Linked DNA regions of Homo sapiens: region 2 is linked to region 1. Evidence: fine-mapped expression QTL. A gene starts in region 1. The other region holds a variant in brackets. All regions are shown on one strand. Distances are from middle to middle. Region 1 holds the start of EGFL7 (EGF like domain multiple 7). Region 2 has its middle 7.7 kb from the start of DIPK1B.

The links. PIP is the estimated chance that this variant, and not a neighbour inherited with it, causes the effect.
Region 2: its variant is fine-mapped to the expression of EGFL7 in whole blood (TOPMed, PIP above 0.99).

The regions. Positions count from the first base shown.
Region 1 is chr9:136,652,937-136,669,504 of GRCh38, forward strand. EGFL7 (EGF like domain multiple 7) reads left to right here and starts at 9,980. Exons shown (of 11, transcript NM_016215.5): 1 at 9,980-10,172; 2 at 10,472-10,687; 3 at 11,756-11,849; 4 at 15,305-15,426; 5 at 15,621-15,737. The coding sequence starts at 15,347. It overlaps LNCEGFL7OS (lncRNA EGFL7 opposite strand), which reads right to left and starts at 7,485. Exons shown (of 2, transcript NR_135132.1): 1 at 7,385-7,485. It overlaps LOC102724193 (a long non-coding RNA gene), which reads left to right. Exons shown (of 4, transcript XR_930443.3): 3 at 460-582; 4 at 758-1,160. RefSeq lists enhancers at 2,166-2,790, 16,497-16,568.
Region 2 is chr9:136,698,705-136,710,988 of GRCh38, forward strand. No RefSeq gene overlaps it. Among named protein-coding and RNA genes, the nearest start is that of DIPK1B, 7.7 kb to the right of the region's middle. RefSeq lists enhancers at 2,466-2,625, 2,666-2,715. The variant G/A (reference allele first, on the strand shown) is at 3,478.

The DNA.
Region 1 (16,568 bases):
GATCACCTGAGGTCAGGAGATCGAGACTGTCCTGACCAACATGGTGAAACCCCATCTCTACTAAAATTAGCCGGGCATGGTGGTGTACACCTGTAATCCCAGCTACTCAGAAGGCTGAGGCAGGAGAATCGCTTGAACCAGGGAAGCGGAGGTTGCAATGAGCTAGGATTGTGCCACTGCACTCCAGCCTGGGCTACAGAGTAAGACTCTGTCTCAAAAAAAAAAGAAAAGCCATCGTGCTGGGCACAGGGCACTGGCCACTTGGCTTCCACAACACAAATCTCCCAGGAGCAGCAGAGAGCACGTCGGGGCTGCCAGGGGTCAGGCAGAGTGTGAGGGGCTTCGGAGGGGTGGGAAACATCCTATCCATCCTTGGCGGTGACGATTACACGGGGGTGCTCATTTGCCCAAATGCATTAAACTGTCCACGTAAAGAGGGTGCCTCTCGGACGATTTTAGGGCAGAGACGTCCGTGCCTGATACTGTCCTGGCAGCCACGTGCCCTCATACACTTGCCCAGACCCTGAATGTGCTACACGGAGTGACCCCAATTACACCGTGGGCCCCGGGTGACTGCGACATGTGAGTGCAGGTTCACCCACGTCACAGACGAACCGCTCCGGTGCAGGGGGAGCTGCGCACGTCGGGGCGGGGGCTGTGGCGTGGGACCTCTGTACCTTCTCTCAATTTGGCTGTAAGCCTACAACTGCCCTAAAATAAAGTCTCTTTATTTATTTTTTTATTTATTTTTACGCAGCTCTCTTTTCCTTAAAATAAAGGCTCTAAAATTGTGTGATTCCACCTCCCTGAGGCTAAGCGAAAGAGCCGCGTCTGCCCCTGTCCTTCCCGGGGGCTGGCAGGGAGTGGGTGCCCGGCGGTGACTCAGCCCTGCAGCCTCCCAGCCCTTCCCCGTATGCGGGCAGGTGATGCGGACGCCTCCGACCCTCGTGGGGTTTGTGGAGAGCGTTGATCAGCGCTGCCGTCAGAACAGGACCTGTGCGAGGCCTCGCAGATGCCGGGAGCCGGGCGGTGCTCTCGGTGCTTCTCATCAAATCCACTGGCTCTTCGAGAGGAAGCACATGTCACAGCCCAGCTCAAACAAGAAGCAAGAAAATCACTCTTCATTTTGGAATTGTAAAATAAAGTAGAAATTATCCTCAGGCTAGAGTGACCTTCCCGTCCTGCCCCAGCCACCCCCCACCTCCCAGCACCTGCCGGTAACAGCCCTGCACACAGCCCCGAGACCCTCCGCCAAACCCAGCCCACCACCCCCGGGAGGGCTGTGGAAGAGGCTAGAGAGCGCATCCCCTCTGGCTCCTGGGGTGGAGGCCTGCTGTGGGTTGGCTGGAATCAGCCCCCCTCCCCCGTGTCCTGGGCCCCTGCAGCCCTGCGAGGCGGACACCTAGCCACCCCTCATCCCAGGGAAGCCAGGGCCAGGGAAGGGCCCAGGAGGGGAGGGTTCGCCCTTCCTGCTGGATGTCGTTCCTTTAAAAATCCCTGCCGCTGGCCGGGCGTGGTGGCTCACGCCTGGAATCCCAGCACTTTGGGAGGCCGAGGCGGGCGGATCACGAGGTCAGGAGATCGAGACCATCCTGGCTAACACAGTGAAACCCCGTCTCTACTAAAAATACAAAAAATTAGCCGGGTGTGGTGGGGGGTGCCTGTAGTCCCAGCTACTCGGGAGGCTGAGGCAGGAGAATGGCGTGAACCCGGGGGGCGGAGCTTGCAGTGAGCCAAGATCGCACCACCGCGCTCCAGCCTGGGAGACAGAGAGAGACTCCGTCACAAAAAAAAAAAAAAAAAAAAAAATCCCTGCTGCTGGAGTGGTTGGGGGAGCCGGCTGGGGGTGCAGACTGTGGTGCCACTGTGGCCGCCGCCATCATTGTCACCATCATCAGCATCACCATCATCAGCTGCCATCCCTGAACCCTCAGGCTTTGCTGGTGGCTGGGAGGGAGGCCGAGGCTGGCATGGCCTGCTGCCCTGACCTGCTTCCTGAACGCTCCGGCCACCCAGGCCTGCGTGGAGTAGGGTCCACGGGCAGACAGATGGGCAGGCCCCTTAGGCAGAGCAGCCCTCCCCATCCCGGCAGTGTGGGGGTCTGCCGGGCAGCCTGAGAGAGGAGTTTCCAGTCATTGCCCAGGCAGGGGTGGCTCAGGAAGCTGCAGTCCCCCCCAAGAGGCCTGATGGTGCTGGGCGGGTTTGCAGCATCCCGGCTGAGAGTCCAGTTGGTGTCACCTGGGCCAGGATGGTGGCCAGTGGCAGCAGCAAGGATATAGGCATGGGGGTGTCCTGCCTGATGCAGAGTCATGGCCAGGGCCTGGGGAGGGACCTGCCCCGTGTCCCCTCCCTGCCTGGGGAAGGGCCCGGACCACCTTCACACAGTCACCCTAGGGCACTAGTGGGGAGTGAAGGAGCCGCCCCCCAGAGCAGGACAGGGAGCTGGTGTGGAGACATGCAGGACAGGGCGCTAGGATGCAGGGGTGCAGGGTGCTGGTGTGGAGAGATGCAGGACAGGGTGCTGGGGTGGAGACTGCAAGGTGCTAAGGTGGGGACGCACACCTGGCAGGGCTGGAGGGAGCACGGGCTGGTGGCAGCCTTGCCTCTCAGGCTGCTCCGGGCCAGGGTGACTTGGGAAAGCCAGGCTCGAGAGGTGAGGCGTTGCCTGGGGTCACACGGCTGGCAGGAATGGCCAGGGCTGGCTGCAGGGGCCCGCACTGCCCTCCCGCCTCCACCAGAACCCGCTATGTTTATTCAGGGACGTGAGGGGGTGCCCAGGTCCAGCAGGTGTTAAGCCGAGCAAAGCCTGCAGCCCCAACGAGACAGCCACGGGAGCTCGGCACCCTCAGTCCCCCAGACAGGGCTCTTCCCCTCTTTGGGCCTCAGTTTACCCATAGGTGAAAGGAGGGCACAGTTAGATGGTCCCTAAGGCCCCAGGGACCCAGGCCAGCCTTGCCCTCCCCCCAGCCCCAGCAGTAGGGCATCTGAGCCTTTCATCAGGAAAAGGAGACTAAATTTATGCCTCAGGCCCCCTCTGCGCTTGGCGGGGCAGAGGTCAGGCTTCCGGCAGCCCCCACCCCTTGACGCAGTTCCCCTTCCCCTCTGGGGGGCTCTGGGGGGGCTCTATTGTTCTCGAGGGCTGGTTCCCAATCTCCCCGAACACTCACTTCCTGTTTCCTGGCTGAGAGGAAACAGAGATTCCTGACCAGGCAGATGCCTTTTTTTCCCTTTCTCTCTTTACATTTTTTAAGGGTATTAAATAATAGTGATAATATGACGGCAGCCTTGGTGCTGAGGAGTGTGGACTCGGGGACTGGAGGAAGCCCAGGGCCACCTGCATGGGGCTCTGTTGACCCTCCTTCGAGAATCTGCTGGAAGCTATGGACCCCTCCTCCCTCCCCACCAGGGAAGGGCCCAGGCATAAACTGTGTGCACTGTGACTGGGAACAGGGAGACCCCGGCACCCTCCCCAGGACTCCCAAGACCCTCCACGCCCTGATCTGACACGTGGGGAAACTGAGGCAGACAAGCTTTCAGGGCACCTATGGTCCCTGACCCTACCGGAGCTCTATGACAACCCCGCAAGAGAGACAGGGATGAAGCCTCCAGGGAGGGACCCTCACACCCTTCCCAGAAGCCCACAGACCCCAGACACACGGGCATCCCCAGGGGAGGGGCCCCCCACCACTGTGCCTTGCGGAGACTGGGGTCCCTGTGGCTCTGGGTTCCAGTCCAGCCCTGCCGGGGAAGGCCCTGGGAGCTTGAGCAGCCACTCCCATGGGGCCTCAGTTTCCTCATCTGTAGATGGGGTCAGATCATTGCCTCCACTTCGCAGGGCCAGGGCAACGGCCCCAGGAGGAGACACCCGAACGCAGCACCTGCTCACAGGCGTACACCGTCTCTCCCGCTATTTTCTCCCCTAAAAGCTTGGAGCGCCTGGTCCCCAGCTCTCCCCACACGGGCAGGCGGGGAGAGGACAGGGCGGCCCCCAGATCTCCCCAGGCGGGCAGGTGGGGAGAGGACAGGGCGGCTCCAGCTGGGGGCCGGGCTGCTGAACTGCCGCCACCTCAACTGGCTGCCCCACAGGCCCTGAGCTCTCGGGAACTTCTCCTTCCGTCGCGGGAGATGAAGTGCTTTTTCCTCTTGACGTTAACGGCTGCCCCATCTGTCGGGCCTGGGCAAATCACAGCCCACCGAGTGGGACTTCTGTGCCATGTACTGGCGCCAGGCGTGAGGGCAGCCTCAGGGGGCCGGCAAGTCCCCCTTCCTCAGCCCCATGGGAACCTCAGCAGGGGTGGGAAGCAGTCTCCAGGGCCTGCAGGAGCGGGATCCCAGAAGCTGGACACTGGGACCAGCCCCGTTCGTGGCGCTGAGGACCCCGAAGGGACACGCGAGGCCCTGGCAGCTGCATTGGGTGGGGACTCTGAACTCACTCGAGGGTCACATGACCCTCCTTCAAGAATCTGCTGGAAGCTACGGACCCCTCCTTCCTCCCTCCTGGGAAGGACCCAGGCACAAACTGTCTGCCCCATGACTGGGAACTGGAGACCCCGGGACCCTCCCCAGGGCTCCGAAGACCCTCCATGCCCTGGTCTGACACGAGGGGAAACTGAGGCAGAGAAGCCTTCAGGGCACCCATGGTCCCTGACTCTACTGGAGCTCTATGACAACCCCGCAAGAGAGACAGGGATGAAGCCTCCAGGGAGGGACCCCCCACACCCTTCCCAGAAGCCCACAGACCCCAGAAGCACAGGCATCCCCAGGGGAGGGGTGCCCCACACACTAGGGGCTCCATCTGGGGCTCACGCTGCTCCACAAGGCTTTCTCAAGTCAGACCACCAGTGCCCACCTCGTGAGCTGCCAGGCAGCACCCAGTGTCCATCTGGGGACCCCTCTCCCAGGCTCACTCCACAGTGGAGGCCTCTTCTCTCTCCTCCCCTCCAGACTCCCTGGGTGCTGCTGGGGACATCCACGGAGCCTGCAGCACACAGCCCCCTGAGCCCACACTGCGCTCTCACCCCAGCCAGGTGTCTCCCCTGTGAAGCAAGTCTCTCCCTAGGGACGGATTCTGCCGTTTAAAAAATAAGATTTTCTTCACCTTCCTACATGAACAAAAATAACAATACAGCAATACCACTGCAAAATCATCAGAATGGCTAAAATGAAAAAGACAGACAACAGCAAGTGCTGACAAGGGTGTGGGGCGGCCAAATGCTCCTGCACTGCTGGCAGGGGACCTGAGAACTGCAGGGCATTCCCTGGCTTCCTGCCCCTCCTGGGACTGGGGACCCCCCAGGGACAGCCTAAGGGAACTGCATTTATCTTCACGTCTGCCAAAAGATAACACGAAGATGTTCAAAGCTAAGCCCCCAGGCTGGTAAGAGCTCCAAGGCACCAGCAGTGTGTGCAGAACTGGGGGGAGTCTGTTCTCCCAGGGATGCTCCCATCACCTGCTGCCAGCAGTGGGGCATGCCGGTCCCCTGGGGTGTGGCCAAGGGGCTGTGTCTCCTGCCCGGGCTGCCGGCCCCTCTCAGGTTCACTTTCCCATCTCTAAGCCCACGTCTCGCTGCAGTTCAAGTTTGCCAGGCCACCAACGGGTGACACGCCCGGCGCAGTGGGGGACTCCGCACTTTCTGCGCACCTGCTCCAAGTCACCTCTTCCAGGTCCGGGTCCCTGCCCTGTGGAGCGCGCACCCGGGCAGGGGCATGGAGCACCGGCAGGACTGGACTTTGTGCTGAGTGTGGTGGCGCCTTAGGAGGAGGTCACACAACCCGATGTGTCCCTCCGCGAAACTCCCTGAGCACTGGGTGTGAAGGGCAGCGGCGCCCAGCAAGGCCGAGGAGGGGCGACTGTTATCCAGGCAGGAAGCGGGGTGGACCGGACCAGGGTAGGGGCAATGTCAGGAGAAGGGGACACTCAGATGCAAAGCCGGTGGGGACCTGCCAAGAAGCCAGCCCACAAGGCCATGGACTCCTCCACGCCATCAGCTGGAGCAGTGGGCAGCCCCAGGAAGGGAGACGGGAGCGGCCAGGGGAAGGGCGAGGGGTCCCCCGGGCGACCCCCGAGGCTCAGGCGCCCGGACTCCAGTCCTGGGCCTCCGTTTTCCACCCTTGAACAAGCGGCTTCCACCTGTGAGCCAGCTGCCTCCTCTGAAAATGGAAGCCCCTCAACTCAGAGGGTGTCGCTCTGGGACGTGGGTCAGGGGCCGGAGCAGGCAGGGAGAGGTGAGAGGAAAGGCTGGGGACCCTCACTTCTCCCTGCCCAAACCCTCGCTCGGGAGCAGACGGCTCCTCTGCCCGCAGGCACCCCTGCCTGGCAGCTCCCTCCAGCCCCCGTCGGGTCCGGGACGTCCTCTGATGGGAAGGTTCCACCACATCCGTGGCTGACAGAGCCAGCCCGTCCGAGGCCGGGGGGCGCTCGGGGTAAACAGGAAGCCCCATCCCTCCCGCACTCTGCTTCACTCCCTCCTCCTGCACCTCCTGCAGCCCGGCTCCCGCGGCCGCGCCTGGTGCCCCTCTGTCTCGCGCCACCTGAGATGCCCAGGCTGGCCTCTGCCAGGGGCTTAGTCTGCCCTCTCCTGGGGCTTCAGAGGCCAAAAGCACCCTGGTGAGGGGTCCGGGAGGCCCGGGAGGGCCCGGGGGGCTCTGCCAGGCCCCTCCACGCCTCTCTGCCCAGCCAGCACGCTCTGGGAAGGTAAGGCAGCCCTTCCCCTTATAACTAACCTCAGAACATTCCCAGGTGGCTGGAAGGCCACTGGACAACATGGCCCTGCTGACAAGAGAGACAATGGGGAAACTGAGGCCTGTGTGGGGCACAAAGCTGGGACCAGAGCTCCAGCTTCCTGCCCCTGCCGGGCCTCCACCTCTGACACCACCCCAGGCAGGGTGAAGCCCTGGGCTCCAGACCTTCCAGTGCCCAGATGAGGACAGGCGCAGGCCTTGGGGTGGCCACACTCTCCCACCAGGTCTCCCCCTCTGTGCTGGGCCCCTGAGGTGAGGGGAGGAGGCCAGGCGTGGGGCCCGGCCTGGCTTCTGTGGGGCTGGAGCCTGGGCAGGAGGCACTGCTGACTCCCAAAATGATTCCCTGCTGAAGGTCTGTGCCATGATCCCAAACACACACCACCAGAGCGGCCAGGGCAGGGAAGGGGGCACCTCCAAGGACCGGAGGGTGAGGGAGGGGCCCGCCTGCCCCTTGCTGAGCCCCTGGGCCTTGGGCACAGAGTGTGCTCCACCCATACCAGAACCCGGGGGCAGCCCCAACCCCCTGGACCCCCAGTACCCTCTGGCGTCCAAGAACCCATGTCTGTCCCCTGCCAACCCCCCGCCCCTCCTGTCCCCGCTGGGCCCCCGACATTAGGGCAAGGCCGCAGCCCACCTCCTGTACCTGCCTCTGAGGCTCCAGGAGCCCAAGAGAGTGGAGTGCCCCTCCTGTGGTGGCTCCAGGCTATGGGATAGGGCAAAGCTGGCACTCTGGGCCTGAGCCCAGGCCTCCTTCCCTTGGGGAGGGTCTAGTCTTGGCCTGGGGAGGGGCTGGGGGCAGGGCAGAGCTTATCAGGAGGGGGTTGCAGTGAAGAACAAGTTGGCAGCAGGCGGTGCCCAGCCCCCCAGGCTGTCACCCAGGAGTCCAGTGCCAGGAGGACAGCCTGGGGAGGACGCAGACTCTGCCCTCGCCCCTTGCCTGTAAGCACAGCAGTCAGTTCACCGGGAAGGCCCCCAGCGGGCCAAGCCTTAGCAACTCGTGCACTCGGCTACTTAGCTATTCCTGCCCCGAGCTGTCCCCTGGCCGGATAGGTCTGATGACAGGGGCTGCTCCAGGTTGGGACATAGGACAAGCTGGGGTGGGGGACATGGGGCTCCCCAAGAAGAGGAAGGAAGGGTGAGGCAGCCTCCTGTGCCGAGCATCCCAGCCCTGTCCGGCCTCCAGGCTCACCTGGGCCGGTCACTTCTCCCTCTGGGCCTCAGTTTCCCCCTCTGTACACAGAAAGGGCTGGATCTAGCCCACCCCATGCTTGTGGGTCCTTCCACCAGGAGGCCAGGGCAGATCCAGGGGCATGCAGGTGGGGGAGGAGGGGGCAGGCCGCAGGGATGCAGGCAGAGGGCAAGAGGGCACCTCCTGGGATGGGGGCACAAGCCTACTGGGCCCCTATACGGTGGAGTAGCTAAGTAGCCGAGTGCACGAGTTGCTAAGGCTTGGCCCGCTGGGGGCCTTCCCGGTGAACTGACTGCTGTGCTTACAGCCAGGGGCGAGGGCAGAGTCTGGGTCCTCCCCAGGCTGTCCTCCTGGCACTGGACTCCTGGGTGACAGCCTGGGGGACTGGGCCCGGCCTGCTGCCAACTTGTTCTTCACTGCAACCCCCTCCTGACAGCTGGAGGGACAGGCTGGCCAGGGCAGGATGAGCCCCTGGGTGGGAGAGCCAGGGGGCCGAGGGAGGCACAGGGCGGCTGAGGGTGCAGCCAGTAGGGTAAGGGCCAGATCCCAGGGTGGCCTAGTGTGGAGGAGGTGGGGAAATGGGGTTCTGCCTATCTGCTCCAACCTCAGGGCAGGGGCCACCTCTGGAAAGAGGCCCCTCCCGCTCAGACCAGCGGTGCCTGGGTGCCAGGAGCGCCCCCTTAAACCAGCTCAGTGACCATGAAGCAGGTGCAGAAACAGGCCCGGAGAAGAGTGAGGTCCTGCCTGGCTGAGGCCCTGAGCCCTGACCACAGCCTGGCGCCCAGAGCAGACCCTTCCCCTGGCCGTGGGTAGAGGGGAGCTGGTTCCTGCTTGAGGGGGAGGCGCATCGCGTGTGGGTGAGGTTTCCACCTGCCCTCCAAAGTCCCGTGGGGAATTTCCCCAGCTGCCCCAGCCTCCCTTGGCTCAAGTTGCCCAGCTGAGTGGGGCTGGAGAGGTGGGGGCACACTGACCGCCCAGGGCCAGGGAAATGGGGGTGTCCCAGGCATCAGGCCGACAGGGGCTGACCCCAAAGCAGGGCTCACACCCCACGGACAGCGGGGTTGGGAGAGGCCCTGCTCTCCTGGGGTTCCAGGCGTGCCCTCCAAAGCCACCCAGCTCCCTTCGGCACCGTGTCCCCTCCCACCCAGCCCACCTTTGCCACAGTGGCTCGCTCGGCCTGAGGCTCCCACTGCCGTGTGAACAGGGAAGATGAGGGTCAGACCTGGAGGCTGGGACGCCGGGAATCTGACAGAGCACCCCCTGTGATCACCCACAGTGTCCCGCATCCCTCCCCACACCCCCGGCCGCAGCCTGCTGCCAGCCCAGAGCACCCCTGTGAAGTGGGGCTGAGGGCATTGGGCCTGCTTGCCCATCTCCAGGGCAGGGGCTCACAGCCTCACTGGCAGCTCTTTTAGGGGAGAGAGCTTGGACTCCATGCTTGTCCCCTCCCGTCACCCCCTCACCATGGGCCTCAGGGACCCACGGAACAGGCTGTTCTCGGACCGCTCAGCCTGTCTTGCCACCCCAGTCCCTTCCTGCCGGGCCTCGCCACTCGCCATCCCTCACTGGTCAAGGCTCCTGTGTGGCTGGTCCCTGCCTTGGCCTGGGGCCCCTCCAAGCTCCCGTGCTGTGTCACACACATCTGGGGGTGTCCTGGGGGAGGGCCCAGCATCCTTGGCCCAAAGATGCAGCAGCTCCCTTCTGTCCAGCCACACGTGAGCATGGCCTGTGAACCCACGGTCCTGGGAGGGCCCTGGGCTTGCGTCCTCCACCCCACACTCTCCCCAGGGTCTCCAGCAGGGTCCAGCCCTGGTTTCTGGCTGTTTTGGGGCTAGACTCTGATGGCCCAGGGGACGGCTTCCCCACCCCTGGGCAGTTTGTCCAGGCCCCCTCACACGGTGGCCCCCACCCCCCTCAGCCTCCTGTTTGTCCGACGACACGTCCCCGTTATCAGCGGAGAACACACACAGGAAGTCCGGCTGGGAAGGGCCCATCCCAATCCCGATTACCCAGGACGGAGCATAAAAAGCCGCCCTTCCTCGCCCGGGGGGAGCCTCCCTGCACCAAGCTGGCCCTGCACGGCTGCAAGGGAGGCTCCTGTGGACAGGCCAGGCAGGTGGGCCTCAGGAGGTGCCTCCAGGCGGCCAGTGGGCCTGAGGCCCCAGCAAGGGCTAGGGTCCATCTCCAGTCCCAGGACACAGCAGCGGCCACCATGGCCACGCCTGGGCTCCAGCAGCATCAGGTATGGCAGGGGTGGCCTCGGAGGGGCAGGGAGCGGACAGGGCGGGCCCCCCATTCCCCTCACTCCCGCTGACCGTGGCGCCTGCTGGCTGCTCCGCAATCTGCTCCCCAGCGAGGTCACAGGGGAGGGGTCCCAGTCTCCTCCCCTTCTGCACAGAGGAGGCCACTGAGGCCCCTTGGCCAAACGCCTGCTAGTGGGTGGCCCAGCGTAGATCCCAATCCAGTCTGCTGACTCCAACACTTCACCCCCAGTCGCCCTTCCCCTGAACCCCACCCTCTGGCCTTTCTCTCCCTCCGCAGAGCAGCCCCTGTGGTTGGCAGCAAAGTTCAGCTTGGCTGGGCCCGCTGTGAGGGGCTTCGCGCTACGCCCTGCGGTGTCCCGAGGGCTGAGGTCTCCTCATCTTCTCCCTAGCAGTGGATGAGCAACCCAACGGGGGCCCGGGGAGGGGAACTGGCCCCGAGGGAGAGGAACCCCAAAGCCACATCTGTAGCCAGGATGAGCAGTGTGAATCCAGGGTGCGGGACGTGGGGCTCGGGCTTAGGGATGACTTGCTGGGTGCGGTGGGCAAATGGGTGACTCTGTGGGCCCCCCTTGGACCCTGGAGACGCCCTTGTTCTCCCTCTCCCCAGCCTCATGCAGAGTGGCTGAAGCCCCATCCCAAAGCCCCCAAAACCACAGTGGGTCCTAGAAGGCCCCACTTTTTGTCTCATACGTCCACACCAAGAAGCCTGTCTGAGAACCCCCACTTTCCAAATGGTGCCTAGCCAGGATGGGGGCAGCGAGGGCTGAGTCGGGGCAGCCCTGGAGCTGCCCTTTCTGCTCCATCGCCTCTTCCAGACTCAGGCAGGAGAGGTGGGGAGGCAGGTCAAAGGGTTAAGTGACCGCAGATCCAGAGATGAGGCCAGGGGCAGGGGACAGGGAGGGTGGCGGTGGCTCTCCCACCCAGAGGCCCCCTAGGCCCCACTCTGAACACTTCACTGCTGGGGGCTAGGTAAGAGCTGCCCTGCGTGGGCTCAGGGCGCCAGGAGGCCTAGGACTCCCCAGTCAGATGAGGAACGCCCCCTGACAGCAGCTGCTCTGGTCGTCCCTTGGACCACGTGCCAGGGGCTTCCAGGGCCCCTGGTCCAGAGCAGTGGCCACTGGATTGCAGGGTGGGGCGGCCTCATTTTGGGGACTCCTCTCCAGGGACCTGGGCCCCTCCCTTCCTCCAGCTCCCATGCACCAAGGTAGGACCAAGCTGGTGGCCCTCTCGGACCCATCTGCAGGCCCCTTGCCCAGCACCCTGGGTTACATGGAGAGACCTCCAGCTCCACTCACAGCAGCCTCCCATCCCCATGCCAGGGAGTCCAGGGCTGGAGGCAATAACCCCATTTTACTGAGGCCAGGGGCTGCGGATCCGAGAGGACAATCAGCTCAGGACAGGATGGGGTCGGGGTAGGTGCAGGACAGGGGCCTGTAGGCCTAGTGCAGGCGGAGGTCCCACAGCAGCACCGAAAGCTGGTCCCGGGCCCCTTCCCAGCCCCCAGACATCAGGGTGACCAGGACTGTGCATAGGCACTAACCCACAACTCCTCTCCAACCAGCAGCCCCCAGGACCGGGGAGGCACAGGTGGCCCCCACCACCCGGAGGAGCAGCTCCTGCCCCTGTCCGGGGGATGACTGATTCTCCTCCGCCAGGTGAGTCCCAGCAAACCCCTTGCTCCGAGGGAACACTTCTCACACCGGCGCCCACGCGGGTTATGACACAGGGCGCTGGCTCCGGCTGGGGTCTGAGGGGCTGCTGAATTGGGCTGGCCCGAGCCCCACGTGCCGCGCCCGCAGTAACAGCTGTAACAATTGTTGTGTGGCCACGACCTCACCGTCACTAGATCCCAGGGCTGTTTAGCCCCATCTTATAAATTTGGAAATGGAGGCCTGGAGAAGAGAGGTGACCAGCCCAGGGACCTCTGGTGTGAGGAGACTCTCTGGGGGCCTGTGGATTCGCTGGGAGGAGTGTTCTGCGATGGCCCTGACTGTGCTGAACTCAGCAGTGACCCAGTGACCCCGGTGAGGGTGCCTGATGCCTGAGAGAGGGCCAGGTGGGGGCCGGCGCAGGGGCCCCCAACCTAACACGCTAAGGCTAGGAGGCAGGCCTGGGCTCTGCCATGTGGTCTCAGAGGAGATCTGGGTCTCTGGGCCTGCGGTGGGGACGGTCATGATGCCCACTGCCTGCGAGGCTGCAGGACCCAGCTCAGTGCTAACCTGCGCCGGGCGCCTACCGCGCGGCCCCCCAGCGGCTGAGATGGGCGTCCCGGGGTGGTTTTCAGCCTGGGGGGCTTGAAAGCTAGCAAAGGGCCCGCAGCCCCGTCAGTGTGGGCGCCCTGGGCGGCCTCTCCTGGCTCCTGGCGGCCGGGCTTGGTCGTGCGTCCCCAGCGACCGCGCAGCGAGCGCCCTGCCGCGGGGACTCGGGCCCCAGGATTCCCGGAGGGGGTGCTGGCGGGCCGCGGCTCAGAGGCGCGTTTGCGTCAGCCCCGGGTTCCAGCAGAGTCACTGCCCGCCCGGGGGCAGCTCGTCCGCCGCGGGGCCTCAGTTTCCCCGTCTGCGCAATGGGGGCGGGGCGGGGCCGCCAGGTGGGGCGGGGCCGGGGGCGGGGCGGGGCGGGGCTCGGGGCCCCCACGGCGCGGGCTCGGGCGGCAGTGGCGGCGGCGCGTGCGCGCCCCGGATCCGGCGGTGAGTGCGGAGCGAGCGGGGCGCGCCGGGGTCGGGGTCCGGTCGCCGCCCGGGCTGGGTCGAGGGCGGGACCCGCGGAGCCCCCGGGGGCGGGGAACCTGGCCGCGCGCGGAGCTGGGGGCGGCTCCGGGACGAGGCAGCGCGACCGCTGGGGCCGGGGGCGGAGCGGGCCGGGGCGCCCGCGGCTGGGTCGGGCCGGGCCGGGAGAATGGGCCCAGCGGCCCCGGGAACCGGCTCCCCCTGCCGGCGGCGGGCGGGCGGGCGGCGCGGCGGGGAGGGCCGGGGTCGCCGCGGCCCCTCGTCCGACCCGGCGCGACTCAGCGCCTCGGGGCCCAGCCTGTGCCGCCTGCTCCGCCCCCCGCGAACCCCGGAGCCAGCAGCGCGGCTGGGAGGGGGCGGCGGGCAGGTCCGTCTCGCTCCGCCTCTGCGCCCTCCCTCGTGGGCCCCGCGGTCCCCAGCCCTGCTCCCGCCGCGAGGGGTCCGCCAGTGCCTGCGGCGCAGCCAGGCCCCTCCCTCTGCGGACCCGGCCTCTCGCGGGTGGGGGCTGCGGGGCTGCTGCCGGGCAGGTGGGGAGGGAGCCCGTGGGCGCTGGGGGCACGGGGACCGGACTGCTGGTCCACCTGGCGCCGCCGCCCCCTCCCCGCCCGGCACCCCTGGGTCGAGGCCGTGGCCCCCCCCGGGGAAATGGGGCTTGCAGCACCGGCTCGGAGAGCACCACGGGCTTCCTCTGGCCTCGGGAAAACATGACTTTCAAAAATTGAGTCTCCACTTAGCACCGCTTCCTGTCCAGGCGACTCTCAGGAATTGTGGGGGGGAGCTGTGCCAATATGTGTGGGGGGCAATGAGGTCTGGGAGATTCGCCTACCCCCAGGCCCGCCCTGGCATCCCCCTGCCCACATCAAGCCGCCGGGCCGCTGCCCTACCTCTTCCTTCCCGGGTCCCACTCCCCAATGTCCCCCGACTTCGAGTCTTGCCTTGAGGTCGCACCAGACCCAGCCCCTAACAGTGTCCTTCATCCAGGGCCCATCCCCAGAGTTAATCTCCAGCCAGCTCTGCCCCCTCGACAAACTCCTGCCCAAAAACTGCTGTGATGCCCCCCCTGCCCCCAAGCTAAGTCCCCACCCCTCAGCTGCCCAGGGCAGCCTCTGCCTAGTTGGCAGCCTCTGCCCTGCCCTCCTCTCTCCAGCGCACAGAGGACTGGAGGCCCAGGAAGGACCCCCAGCCACCCTCCCCGCTGGGACCGGGTGATGCCTTGGCAGTGCCCGTGGGAAGCAGGTGTGGGATCGTGCTCCACACCCAGTGGGGCTGGCCAGCAGCGACTGAGGACAGTGTGACTATTTATAGGACTGGCTGTCAGAGCTGAGGAGGGGCCTCAGAGACCCTATTCTAGTGTGTGAGGAAACTGAATCCCAGAGAAGGGACAGCCTTACCCCAGCCTCTGCCCCGACCCGAAGCCTGGCCTTTCCCTGCGGAGGGCCCTGCAGTGCCTCGGAAGGAACCCACCCAGCCTTTGGGAAGCACCCGTGAGAGGCCCTGGGTGGGACCCTGCAGCATGGCAGGGGCTCGCCAGGTCTCCAGACCCCTGGCTGCGCATAGGACAGAATCCCCATCCCCGGCATTGCCACAGACCATTAATTCTGGGCTCTCATGCTCTCAGGAAGCCTCACCCGGGCCCCTGGCTCCTGCTGCACAGCCAGGAGGGGGTTGGATTCCGGTTCCGGTGACACTGTCGGGGGCTGCTCCTCACCCCCAGGTGTGCACCTGGCACAGCCACTGTCCCAGGATCCCTGGAGGCTGATTGCACACATATCCCAGCCTGGGAAGGACCCCCTCTAAAATGAAGGCCGCCCCTCTGGTGGTCTTAGAATGTGTGCACCCTCCGCACGGTTCCTGCTGGCTTGCAGCTGCTGGCCCACCTGCTGGGGCCGGTTCCACACTCAGATGAGAAATCAAATTCCAGAAGGGCTGAGGCCGGCAGGTCCCTGGTGGGGCTGGATCCCAGCTCTGCCCACGAACACCCCGTTTGCATAGACTGGGGTGCAAACTCACCCCTGCCCTGCTGTGAGGAGGGCCCTGGAACCAGGCAGGACAGGAGAAACGGCCACCCGTAGCTGGAGCCATCCTTCCCGGAGCCTCGGGCAGATGCCCAGCAGGATCCACTCGATTCCTGCACCAAGAGCTCTGGACAGCGTCACCCCCCCTGTGCCCCCAGGCTGTGGCCCCAGCTGTTTGTGCCTGGCGAGGGTCTGGCTAGCTGGAAGAGGGGGCCAGCGGAGGAGAGAGTGGGCGCCACCGTGGGGCTGTCCCACCGGTGGAGGCTCCAGCGGAGATGAGCTGGGCAGGCCTCGCGGAGCAAGTGCAAACTGCACCCGCGTCCTGGGGGCATCTGCGGGGAGACTTAGGGGTCATGCTTTGTGCCCCAGGCCACCCAGAGGAGAAGGCCACCCCGCCTGGAGGCACAGGCCATGAGGGGCTCTCAGGAGGTGCTGCTGATGTGGCTTCTGGTGTTGGCAGTGGGCGGCACAGAGCACGCCTACCGGCCCGGGTGAGCCAAGCCCTAGCCTGGGAGTGCTGGGGTGGGGGGACCGGGAGCCCTCAGCACCTCCTAGAGGCGGCCCTCAGCACCTGTCGGGGACTCCCTGGGGGCTCCTGCTGAGGGTCCTGCCCCGGCCACATGTTCCCATCATTCTTGGGTCCTGCTCTGGGACTCCTGGGCTGACCCCCTCTCCACCCCCGCAGCCGTAGGGTGTGTGCTGTCCGGGCTCACGGGGACCCTGTCTCCGAGTCGTTCGTGCAGCGTGTGTACCAGCCCTTCCTCACCACCTGCGACGGGCACCGGGCCTGCAGCACCTACCGGTGAGTGCCCCACCACACCGAGCTCACCCAGCCCCAGCCTCCCAAGTCGGCCACACATCAGCATGTCAGGGGCGAGGCGGGGGTGAATCCTGGGACCCAAGATGGGAAACTGAGGCCAGAGCCATGAGAGGGCTGCCTGAGATGGGCGACCCAGGGCGGCCGGAGCCAAGGGGTTCCACGATCACCTCCAGTGTCCTAATCCTTGCTCTTGCCCCGACACGTCTCAAAGGACCGCACCTCTAAGAGCATCCCCATGTTTAGAGGGGTCACCCATCCTGTCTGCACCCCTCCACTTCCGGGGGACTAACCCCTCCCTACCCTGGCATCCCTGGCTGCAAGTTCCCATATACACAGAATGGTGCCTGACTCCCCTGGTCCCACTCCACTGGGCACCCCCCTCCACATGACGGCCCCCAGTGGGCACAGATGAGACCCTGAAATGTCCTGTATGCCCACACAAGGGGCACACACCCCTAAGTCTCAGAGTCCTCCTTCCTGGGTGTGGGAGCTCCACCCCCTGCTGGGGGAGGGGCCTGGGAATTCAGACTTCTGGAGGTTTAAGAAGGGCTCCGATGCCCAGGGCCCACACTCTGCCGTGACTCGCCGTAGGCCGGGCACACCCTCTCCTCTGGGCCTGGATGCCCCCACAGTAGGAGACCAGATAGGTGGGGGCACACACAGGCCTGGCCACTGCCTCTGCTCCATGCGGAGTGTGGCTGGGCCTTCCTGCTGTGGCTTGAGTCCCGGCCAGCACCGGAAGGCCCAGGCAGGGAAACGGCTGTGCAGTGACCCCTCAGTGCCATCCCTTGAGGAGAAGACCCTTGGGGGCAT
Region 2 (12,284 bases), 44 kb after region 1:
CTCACGAAGTCCACGATGTTGGGGAAAAAACAGTCTTTTTGATGCCCAAGGGAAGCTTTGCTTTTATGTTAGTGGTTACACAATTTCTTTTACATATCATCAGCAGGAAAACATCATGTTTAAAACTTTGCTTAGAACATGTGATTCCCCAAACGCTGCGTGCGGAAGGCCGCAGGGTCCTCTGCCTAGGAAAACCAGAGACCTTTGTTCACTTGTTTATCTGCTGACCTTCCCTCCACTATTGTCCTATGACCCTGCCAAATCCCCCTCTGCGAGAAACACCCAAGAATGATCAATAAAAAAAAAAAAAAAAAAAAGAACATGTGATTCCCAATAATATGGCTGAGACCCTCAGTTCTTTTGAAAAAAGCAACAAGGTAAAGTAGCCCCTTTATGCCAAATGCATATGTCTGTGCCTGTGTATGTTTTTACGGCTGTGTGACTGTGTGTGTGTACATATAGTCAAAAGTTCCCAATCTGTCATGCCTGTAATCCCAGCTCTTTGGGAGGCCGAGGCCAACAGATCACCTGAGGTTGGGAGTTCCAGACCAGCCTGACTAACATGGAGAAACCCCATCTCTACTAAAAATACAAAAAATTAGCTGTGCGTGGTGGCAGGCGCCTGTAATCCCAGCTACTCAGGAGGCGGAGGCAGGAGAATCGCTTGTACCCGGAAGGCAGAAGTTGCAGTGAGCCGAGATGGTGCCACTGCACTCCACTCCAGCCTGGGAAACAAGAGCGAAACTCCGTCTCAAAAAAAAAAGGTCTCAATCTGGAAGGATACACATTTGGGTTCCACAGTGATTCCATCTGTCGGATGGCCAGGTCACAGCTGACTTTACTTATTTTTGCTTACCTGTATTTTTTTTTTTGAGATGGAGTCTCCCTGTGTTGCCCAGGCTGGAGTGCAATGGTGTGATCTCGGCTCACTGCAGCCTCCGCCTCTGGGTTCAAGCGATTCTCCTGCCTCAGCTTCCCGAGTAGCTGGAATTACAGATGCCCATCACCATGCCCAGCTAATTTTTGTATTTTTAGTAGAGACGGGGTTTCACCATGTTTGCCAGGCTATTCGCGAACTCCTGACCTCAAGTGATCCGCCCGCTTCAGCCTCCCAAAGTGCTGTGATTACAGGCGTGAGCCACCGCACCCAGCCCTTACCTATATTTTTTTATTGAAGTGAAATTCATGTAACATAAAATTATTCTAAAGTGTACAATTTGGCCGGGCACAGTGGCTCATGCCTGTAATCCTGACACCTTGAGAGGCTGAGGTGGGCAGATCACCTGAGATCAGGAGTTCGAGACCAGCCTGGCCAACATGGTAAAACACTGTCTCTACTAAAAATACAAAAATTAGCTGGGTGTGGTGGCGCATGCCTGTAATCCCAGCTACCTGGGAGGCCGAGGCGGGAGAATCACGTGAACCCAGGAGGCGGAAGTTGCAGTGAGCCAAGATGGTACCATTGCACTCCAGCCTGGGCAACAGAGTGAGACTCCATCTCAAAAAAAAAAAAAAGTGTATAATTTAGCACTTTCAGTTTTTTGCAACGCCTCCAATGTTTTGCAACCATCACCTCCAGAACATTTTCATCCCCCCAAAGGGAAACGCCTTCCCCATAGGCACTCGCTCCCCACTGCTCCCTCCCCCAGCCCATGGCAACCACTCATCTTCGTGTGTCTGTGGATTTGCCCGTTCTGGAAATTTCATAGAAGCGGAATCAGGACCATGTGGACCTTTGTGCCTGGATTCTTTCACTCAGCATGACAGCTTCACGACTCACCCACATAGCCTGGGCCAGAACTTCATTCCTCTGGCCGGGCACAGGGCCTCACGCCTGGAATCCCGGCACTTTGGGAGGCGAGATGGGGGAGGATCACTTGAGGCCAGGAGTTTGAGACCAGCCTGGACAGCATAGTGAGATCCCATCTCTACTAAAAATAAAACGTTAGCTGGGCGTGGTGGTACATGCCTGTAATCCCAGCTACTCGGGAGGCTGTGGCACGAGAATTGCTTGAACCCGGGAGATGGAGGTTGCAGTGAGCCGAGATCGCACCACTGCACTGCAGCCTGGAGGATACAGCAAGACTGTGTCTCCAAAAAAAAAAAAAAAATCAGCCAGGTGTGCTGGCAGGTGCCTGTAATCCCAGCTACTCGGGAGGCTGAGGCACGAGAATCGCTTGAACCTGGGAGGTGGAGGTTGCACTGGGCCAAGGTTGCCCCACTGCACTCCATCCTGGGAGACAGAGCGAGACTCCACCTCAAAAAAAAAAAAAAAAAGCTCATGCTGTCTACAGGGAAAGCCCCTACTGGAGACAGCTGCGCTTGAGTGAGTGGGACTACAGTGCCAACGCTAGGGCTTATTGTGTTGACTGTGGGGTCACCGCGGTTGCCACGTTCCGAGGACACGGTCACTTCCTCGACCGCCTGTCCTGCCTCAGATGAACCTGCATATTTTACAATGAACGTTCAAGACGTCGGTGATAAGGACATGAACAACAGCGACAAGGGCTGTTTTAGAGGAACCCGCCTGAGGTTCCCGGCCCCAGCCTCTCGAAGGACGCAGCTCTGTGCTCAGCCCTGCCTCCCTTGTCTCTCCACCCCCACCTTCCTGTGTGCTTCAGCCCACCTGGGACATCCGAATTTTCTCCAGGAGGAGCGGCAGGTACTAGGGTGATGACAGTTATGAACACGAGTCACAGCCCCGCTCGGTGGGATGGCCTCCTGTGTTCCCTGTGACTCGGACGCTGAACGTTGCTCACACGTTGACAGCATGGAGACGGTTTCACCGTCTGCTACTTTCGAGTTTATTGTGGTGTCTCTCTGCGTCACCCTCATTTTGAGCAGCTGTGGAGGATCCGGGGGCCCCAGCGCCCGCAGGATTCAGGTTTGTCTCCGCCGGCCAGGACATCCTCACAAAGCAGACGTTTCCTCCCCACGGGTCTGGAGGCTGGGGGTGGGGGCGCCCCGTGGTCCGGCTCTGGTGAGGGTCCTCTTCCTGGCAGATCCTGGGAACCCGCCTGAGGTTCCCAGCCCTGGCCTCTCTAAGGATCCAGCCCTTTTCCCCGTTCTCAGCCCTGCCTCCCTTCTCTAGTGCCTTCTTGCTGCGTCCTGACGCGAGGGTGGGATAAGGAATAAGGGGAGGGCACCTGTGCCCTTTCTACTAAGGCCCACCCTCATGACCTCATCCACCCCCAGGCACCTCCCATAGGCTACATCGTCAATACCCTCTCCTTGCAGGTTAGGGCTTCCAGGAAGGAATTTAGTGGGGACACGATTCAGTCCCCCCACTTACACCTTTGCAAATAGCAAGAGAGGGCTGGATATGGTGGCTCACGTCTGTAATCCCAGCACTTTCGGAGGCCAAGGCGGGTGGACCACCTGAGGTCAGGGGTTCGAGACCAGCCTGGCCAACATGGTGAAACTCCATCTCTACTAAAAATACAAAAAATTAGCCGGGCATGGTGGTGCGCGCCTGTA[G/A]TCCCAGCTACTCAGGAGGCTGAGGCAGGAGAATTGCTTGAACCTGGGAGGTGGAGGTTGCAGTGAGCCGAGATCGTGCCACTGCACTCCAGCCTGGGTGACAAAAGTGAAACTCTGTCTCGGATAAAAAAAAAAAAAATAGCAAGAGAGGTTCAATCACCTATACATGGAAGGAACACAGGGAGATTGACACACACACACACACACGCACGCGGGCACACACCCATGTGCACACACACACACAGAGCTAAATGACAAAAATGAAAATGGTACCACACTGCACGTGCTGCCCTGCACCTTGATTTTGATACTGCAGTGGGTTAAATGGTGCCCCCCAAAAGATAAGTCCCCCTGGAATGTGTAAATGTAACTTTCTGTGGAAATGGGGTCTTTACAGCTGTAATTAGGTTAAAGACCTCGAGTGAGATCAATTTTGCCTTTTTTTTTTTTTTTTTTTTTTTGAGATGGAGTCTCACTCTGTCACCCAGGCTGGAGTAAAATGGCGCGATCTCGGCTCTCTGCAACCTCCGTCTCCCCGGTTCCCGCGATTCTCCTGCCTCGGCCTCCCGAGTAGCTGGGATTATAGGCGCCCACCACCACACCCAGCTAATATTTGTATTTTTAGTAGAGATGGGTTTTCACCATGTTGGCCAGGCTGGTCTCAAACTCTTGACCTCAGGTGATCTGCCCGCCTCGGCCTCCCAAAGTGCTGGGATTACAGGTGTGAGCCACTGCACCTGTATAGTTCAAGATAGTTTTACAAGATGGAAAAGTTCTGGAGCCAGATGGCAGTGAGGGCTGTACAACAATGTGAACATACCTAATGTCACTGACTGTGTGCTTAAAAATGATTTAGAGGGCCGGGCGCGGTGGCTCACGCCTGTAACCCCAGCACTCTGGGAGGCCAAGGCGGGTGGATCACCTGAGGTCAGGAGTTCGAGACCAGCCTGGCCAACAAGGTGAAATCCCATCTCTACTAAAACTACAAAAAATTAGCTGGGCCTGGTGGCAGATGCCTGTAATCCCAGCTACTCGGGAGGCTGAGGCAGGAGAATTGCTTGAACCAGGGAGGCGGAGGTTGCGGTGAGCCGAGATCACACCACAGCACTCCAATCTGGGCGACAAGAGCGAGACTCTGTCTCAAAAGAAAGAAAGAGAGAAAGAAAAGATGTGTCTCTGCGAGCAGAAGGTCTTGCCGCTCTGACAGTCACAGATGTGTAGGTCTCCTGACCGCAGCTGCACTCCCACCGAGGGCAGAAACTAGGAAGTCCTTGGAGCTTTGGTTCCCTTGACAGATGGGGGTGGAGCCCCCAGTGTTATTAAGGAGGCATGGCCCAGCTGCTCCTGCACCTTTCCAGCCAACTCTAGATCTGTCCTGGGGGCACAGTGAAAGGTCTCTGAAGTCTGTGGCATGTCCTGCTGCTCTAAGGGGGGCTCTGGCCCATTTCAGGAGGTTTTGCTGACAGACAAACTCACAGGAAGCCACAGTTGAGACACGGGGTTTGCAGTCCTGGTGAAGGGAAAGTGACTGTCCTAGTCAGCTTTGACAAAACACCACAAGCCAGGTGGCTTACAAACAATGGAAATGCATTTCTCACAGTGATGGAGGCCAGAAAGTCCAATATCGAGGTGCAGGCAGATTCCGTGTCTGGTGAGCGCCCGCCTCCTGATAGACGTCACGTGGTGAATGCAGTCAGGGGTCTCCTGGCAGCCGGGGTGGGGGTCTCTTCTTTTTTTTTTTTGAGATGGAGTTTCGCTCTTGTTGCCCAGGTTGGAGTGTAATGGCGCAATCTTGGCTCACTGCAACCTCCGCCTCCCGGGTTCAAGTGACTCTCCTGCCCCAGCCTCCCGAGTAGCTGGGATTACAGGTGCCCGCCACCACCCCAGGCTGATTTTTGTATTTTTAGTAGAGACGGGGTTTCACCATGTTGGCCAGGCCGATCTCGAACTCCTGACCTCAGGTGATTCACCTGCCTCGGCCTCCCAAAGTGCTGGGATTACAGGCTTGAGGCCCCGTGCCCGGCCAGGGGTCTCCTTTATAAAGGCCCTGATCTCATTCATGAGAACTCCACCCTTATGACCTTGTCACCTCCCAAAGGCACCACCTCCCAAAACCATCTATATTAGTCCATTCTCACATGGGTACAAAGAAATACCTGAGACTGGGTAATTTAGAAAGAAAAGAGGTTGAATTGGCCCACAGTTCCTCAGACTGTACAGAAAGCATAGCGGCTTCTGCTTTTGGGGAGGCCTCAGGAAACATCATCGTGGCAGAAGGTGAAGGGGACACAGGTGTGTCCTACGTGGCTGGAGCAGGAGGAAGAGGCACCACTGAATTTTATTTATTTATATTTATCTATTTATTTATTTTGAGATGAGTTTTGCTCTTGTCACCCAGGCTGGAGTGCAGTGACACGATCTTGACTCACTGCAACCCCTGCTTCCCAGGTTCAAGCGATTCTTCTGCCTCAGCCTCCCGAGTAGCTGGGACTACATGCACCTGCCACCATGCGTGGCTAATTTCTGTATTTTTGGTAGAGAAGGACTTTCACCATGGTGGCCAGGCTGGTCTGGAACTCCTGACCTCAGGTGATCTGCCCGCCTCGGCCTCCCAAAAGGCTGGGATTACAGGCGTGAGCCACCATGCCCTGCCCGGCTAGATTAAAGTTGTTTAAAGCAAAATAAGGAGCAGTCATTGCCTGAGGCCGTCTCTGTACTGGGAGTTCCCACTAACCAACAACAACTTTATTCAGTAGTTTGTTAACAGATAGCCAGGTTTCAACCAATCAATCACGGGCAGCCAACCAATCAGACCACACCCAAATAAGGCAAAGGTCTTGAGTTATTTCTTTTCTTTTTTTTTTCTTTTTCTTTTTTTTTTTTTTTTTTGAGACAGAGTCATGCTCTGTTGCTCAGGCTGGAGTGCAGTGGTGTGATCTCGGCTCACTGCAACCTCCGCCTCCTGGGTTCAAGCGATTCTCCTGCCTCAGCCTCCCGATTAGCTGGGATTACAGGTGCACACCACCATGCCCAGCTAATTTTTGTATTTTTAGTAAAGACGGGGTTTCACCATGTTGGCCAGGCTGGTCTTGAACTCCTGACCTCATGTGATCTGCCTGCCTCGGCCTCCCAAACTGCTGGGATTACAGGTGTGAGCCACGGTGCCTAGCCTGGCCTTGAGTTATTTCCGTACTTCACTTCCACATTCAGCCTGTAAAAGCCTGCTGCTCACACTGCTAAGACAGAGCTCCCAGAGCCTCTTCCACCTTTGAGTGCTGCCTGATTCATGCCTCCTTTAATGCTCAAATCAACTCTGTTACATCTATTTTGTCTAAAGTAGGAAGAATCCTCAAATAAGATTGCCACTGGGACACCAAGCTCGAGTTGGCCAAATGGTGCAAACTCCACAGATCCAGCTGAAAACAACATGGCAATGGCTACTAAGCCATGGGGCTCCCAAAACTGAAGTAGATGGGTCAGCTGTGAGAAGCTCACTGCCTGGTACGGAGCATTGGATGGATTGAAAATCATGGAACAGTCCCTGGCTGAGTCATGAGCCGTTGCCACGCTGCCTGAAAATAAACGCAGAACCTTGTTCATGGACTTCCTCCTTCCACCTCTCACCCCCCTCCACTTACGTTAGGAAGAAAGATGATTAGAGGTTCCCAGGCCGTGGGCACCATCCAAGTGTGCTGGAGAACTTGGAGGAGAAGAAGAACTCAAACTTTATGGCTCTGTCGGATATGAGTAGCCCACATCACTCTCCTGTTTGGACCAGTGGAAGGAAAAGTTCTCTGGATTCCGCTCACCGGATTTGTGCACGGTTTGAAATGGGGAGTGAAGGCTGATGTGATCTTGTGGGTGTGGCATTTTGGGCCAATTCGATGCCCTGTTTTTGATGCTTCTATGTGTGTGTTGCCGCGTAGGAGCTGTGTTTCATCCCCATACTTCCATCCTGTACGTGCCAGAGGGGACTCTCCCTATTGGCAAGCACTGAATGCAGAGAAGGGCCAGTGGGATGTGTGAATCTCTCTGCAACCCGCTTTCAGGGCGGGTACAGAATCCCAGAAGCGGTACAGAATCCCAGAGGGAAAAAGGCGCATCAGAGGTTTGATTGAGGGATTAAGGGCAGTAGGGGGACTAAGAGATGAAATATGGGGCTGGGCGTGGTGGCTCACGCCTGTAATCCCAGCACTTTGAGAGACTGAGGCCGGTAGATCACTTGACACCAGGAGTTAGAGACCAGCCTGGTCAACATGGTGAAACCCCGTCTCTACTAAAAATACAAAAAAATTAGCCAGGTGTGGTGGCGGGCACCTATAGTCCCAGCTATTCGGGAGGCTGAGGCATAAGAATCCCTTGAACCCATCACTTGAACCCGGGAGGTGGAGGTTGCAGTGAGCCGAGATCGTGCCACTGCACTCCAGCCTGGACAACAGGGTGAGAGTCTGCCTCAAAAAAATAAAGGCTGGTCGTGGTGGCTCAAGCTTCTAATCCCAGCACTTTGGGAAGCCGAGGCGGGTGAATCATCTGAGGTCAGGAGTTCAAGACCAGCCTGGCCAACATGGAGAAACCCAGTCTCTACTAAAACTACAAAAATTAGCTGGGCATAGTGGCGGGCCCCTATAGTTCCAGCTACTCGCGAGGCTGAGGCAGGAGAATCATGTGAACCCAGGAGGCAGAGGCTGCAGTGAGCCGAGATCACGCCACTGCACTCCAGCCTGGGTGACAATCACTGGGTGACACTCCGTGTCAAAAAAAAAAAAAAGAGATGAAATATGGCAACACAACATCCCTGAGTGGCCAGTGGAGCAGGTAAGAGCTGCTGGTGGCTGACAGTGGATTACCACCAACAGAAGTCAGCCATTGCTCCCAGAGCCCTAGCTGTCCTACACACTGTGACCATACCGAGCCCATCACGTGGGCTCCGGGTACTTGGTACACTGTCTTGGATCCTGCCAATGCCTTTTTGCCACACCACTGGCAGGGGAGGAGCAAGACCAGCTTGCATTCACATGGCCAGGTCTCCAATACACTTAGGTGTGTTCCCCGTACACGCCCCGCCACTGGCCACCTGTGGGCAGGTTAGGACTTCTGATGTCCACAGGTGCCATGATACAGATGATGTCCTGCAGGTTGGCAGCTCAGAAGCCTTGGGTCTCTAGAACTAGACAACTAGACGGGGGTACTCTCATACCTCCCTGTCCACAGAGGCAGGCAAAACATCAACAGCGTCCAGTGGCTGCCTCACCAGGTGGAGTTTCTTGGGATGAGGTAGGTGGAGGTGGGTCCACAGCACTCACTGCCTCAGCCAGTCAAGGAAAACCTGTTGTCTCTTTGCTCCCTCATCTCACCCAAAAGGACAACCCAGCACTTGATTGGACTGTGTGGGTGTTGGAGACAGGATGTGCTTCATTTGGGCATTCGACTTGGCTTCTTAAATTAGTGAATCCAGGTCGGGCGAGGTGGCTCACGCCGGTAATCCCAGAACTTTGGGAGGCCGAGGGGGGTGGACCACCTGAGGTCAGGAATTTGAGACCAGCCTGGCCAACATAGCAAAACCCTGTCTCTACTAAAAATATAAAAATTAGCCAGACGTGGTGGTGTGTGCCCGTAATCCCAGCTACTCGGGAGGCCGAGGCAGGAGAATCGCTTGCACCTGGGAGGTGGAGGTTGCAGTGAGCCGAGATCACACCACTACATTCCAGCCTGGGCAACAGAGTAAGACTTGGTATCAAAAAAATAATAATATAAATAAAATAAATTAGTGAACCCACAAATCAGCCTGCTTACGTCAGGGCCTGAACCAACAGGCTATTCCAGCTGCCGCCCCGTGAGCCACAGGCCACTCTCTCTCCCGCTGGGGCCTCACAGCCCTGTGATCCCTTTGAACGACAAGTCCCTGTGGCTGACGATCCCGTTATCTGGAAACTCCAGAGAAAGAAAACAGCCTCTGCCCAGATGTGCCCCTTGGGGTGGTGGATTCACTGACTCTCTGACACGACTACTAGGTTCACCCCTTGTTTTCAAAAAGCAAAATTAGCTTACAACGAGCTCTTGTCCCAGTGAACCACCTGACCACGGAGGCCTTGTGACTGGAGCCTGACAGTCCCATTCGGAGGGTTTTCAACTCAGACACAACCACCACAAGGAAGGAGGGCCCTAGAGCTTCTCTTTGCAAACAGAAGACTCTGTATTCAACAGCAGCGGGCGGGTCCCCGGTGATATGTCAGCTTCTCATCGGAAGTGGCAGCTCTCCCTTTGGGGGAAACTTGACGCGCCGCACTCCACCGTCTGAGGGAAAGCTCGTGGCTCTCCAGGGCCCTCGATCCACCAGGGCCCCCTAAACGGCTGCTCACCTGGTGTGCTCACCGGCTTGCTGTCAATAAATACGTGGGTAAATCTCTGTTCGAGGCTCTCAGCTCTGAAGGCTGTGAGACCCGATTTCCTATTTCACACCTCTATATTTCTCTGTGTGTGTCTTTAATTCCTCTAACGCCGCTCGGATAGGGTCTCCCTGACTGAGCTGGTCTCAGCACGTCTCTACTAAAAATACAAAAAAAGGCCAGGCGTGGTGGCTCACGCCTGTAATCCCAGCACTTTGGGAGGCCGAAGCGGGCGGATCACGAGGTCAGGAGATCGAGACCATCCTGGCTAACACAGTGAAACTCCGTCTCTACTAAAAATACAAAAAATTAGCTGGGCGCCGTGGCAGGCGCCTGTAGTCCCAGCTACTCGGGAGGCTGAGGCAGGAGAAAGGCGTGAACCCAGGAGGCGGAGCTTGCAGTGAGCTGAGATTGCCCCACTGCACTCCAACCTGGGCAACGGAGCGAGACTCTATCTCAAAAAAAAGGTCTGGGTGTGAGTAGGGGATGCCTGGGGAAGAGACGCAGTTATAGCAGTTGGAATGGGACATGCCAGTTTTGCAGCAGGGCAGGGAGAGCAATGGGCCCCCTGCTTGGGGAGGAAACTCCCAGGCCTCAGGACGAATGGGAAGGAAAGACAGGGCAGGAAGGTCCTCCACTTTCAGAATTGTCCCCGGAGCCTGCCCCGAAGGTGTGTGTGATCCTGTGTCTCTGCGTCTGTGTCTGTGCAGTGGACCTTTCGTTTACCTGTCGTTTGCCCTGGCCAGGGTTTGAGCTCAGGGCCTCAGGCCACGAAAGGCCCTAGAAACAGCAAGGCACGGCCCAGTTCCCGCCCCCACACCTGAGATACCAGTCAGCACCTCCCGGGTCCTCTGCCCCATTCATGTTCCAGGCAGGTGGATGTCACCCATTGGTGGCGTAGAAACAAGGGCCCCAAAACGAGAACTAGACCCATTCAAACTGAACTGGAACCCGGCCAGTGCCCATTCCATGAACACTTGATGGGCTAGTGGCCACGGACAGTGTGCAGGTTCTGGGCCAGGCCTGCAGATGCAAAGGAGAACGTGGTCACTGGTCCCTGCCTGGAGGGAGCACCGCGTCCCGCGGGCCCTGCTGGGAAATGCCTTTTTGGAAGATCTCGGGGACAGGGTCACCCAGGGCCGGCTATGCGCTCACCAGGCACTCCTCCCAGGGCGGGCCATCTCCCTCCTGGCAGCCTGGGAGTGGCACTGAGGCTGCGCTCATCCTTCTCATGGCCCACACCTTCCCCAGATCCTGACCCACGGATCACGCTCTCCTGCGCCCCTCCCCCAGGAAGCCCTCCTCGGGAGACCCTCCAGAACTTTCTTGGCCGCGGTCTTGGCCTGGCTCACATTGACGGAAGGTGTGGGCTCCTGCACCCTCCAGCTGAGCTCCCTGCAGGCCGGACCGACCACCACTGCCCTGCACCCACTCCCCCTGGCCCTGGGACAGCCCTCCTGCAGGAGGAGGACAGGCCATGCAGGGAAGCACATGCTCTCCCAGCTGTAAACATGGCAAGGCCTCCCTCCAGGCCGGGAGAAGCCTACGTGTTGGCCTCTTGGTGCTTGTGCTCTGTGTCCCACCCTCTCGTACTGCTCTTCCCTTTCTTGGGCTCCGGGACCCTCGCTGGCAGAGAGACAGTGCTTGGATCGAGGGAGAGAGGAAAGGTCACTTGGGGACATGGCAGTCCCTCTTCCCAGCCTGGGCTACGGCTACCTTGGGGGTCACTGAGACTGGGAGGGTCTGCCTGCTACTTTCTCCCACTGGCCCCTCTCCCCTTCCTCACGTTGCCTCCAGCCCTGTCCATCCAGGTCGCTGGCCTAGGCCACTGCCACACCCCCAGGCCCACCCCTCCTTTCTATACCTGGCATAGAACCCTGACCCCATTGCCCCCTGGCCTTGTCCCTCTCTGTTTAACTCCCTGCCATGCAATTCTGTGGGGAGGGGCTCATCCTTTCAACAGATGATGCCAGAAGGATTGGATGTCCATGTGCAAAAAATGCTAACAAAACCCCCAAGCCCCAAACTGAAAACCCTCTGATCCACACCCTGCACAATACACAAAAGTTAACTGGAATTGGGTCATTGACTTAAATATGAAGCCGAATACTATACAACTTCTAGAAGAAAGCACAGAAAACCTTTGTGACCTTCGGTTAGGCAAAAATTTCTTAGAGATGACACACTCAGAGCACGATCCGGGCTGGTGGCAGTGGCTCACTCACGCCCAGAATCCCAGAGCTTTGGGAAGCCAAGGTGGGAGGATCGCTTGAGCCCAAAAGTTCAAGACCAGCCTGGGCAACATGGCAAAACCCCATCTCTACAAAACATTAAAAAATTAGCCTGGTGTGGCCAGGCACGGTGGCTCATGCCTGTAATGCCAGCACTTTGGGAGGCCAAGCCAGGCGGATCATGAGGTCA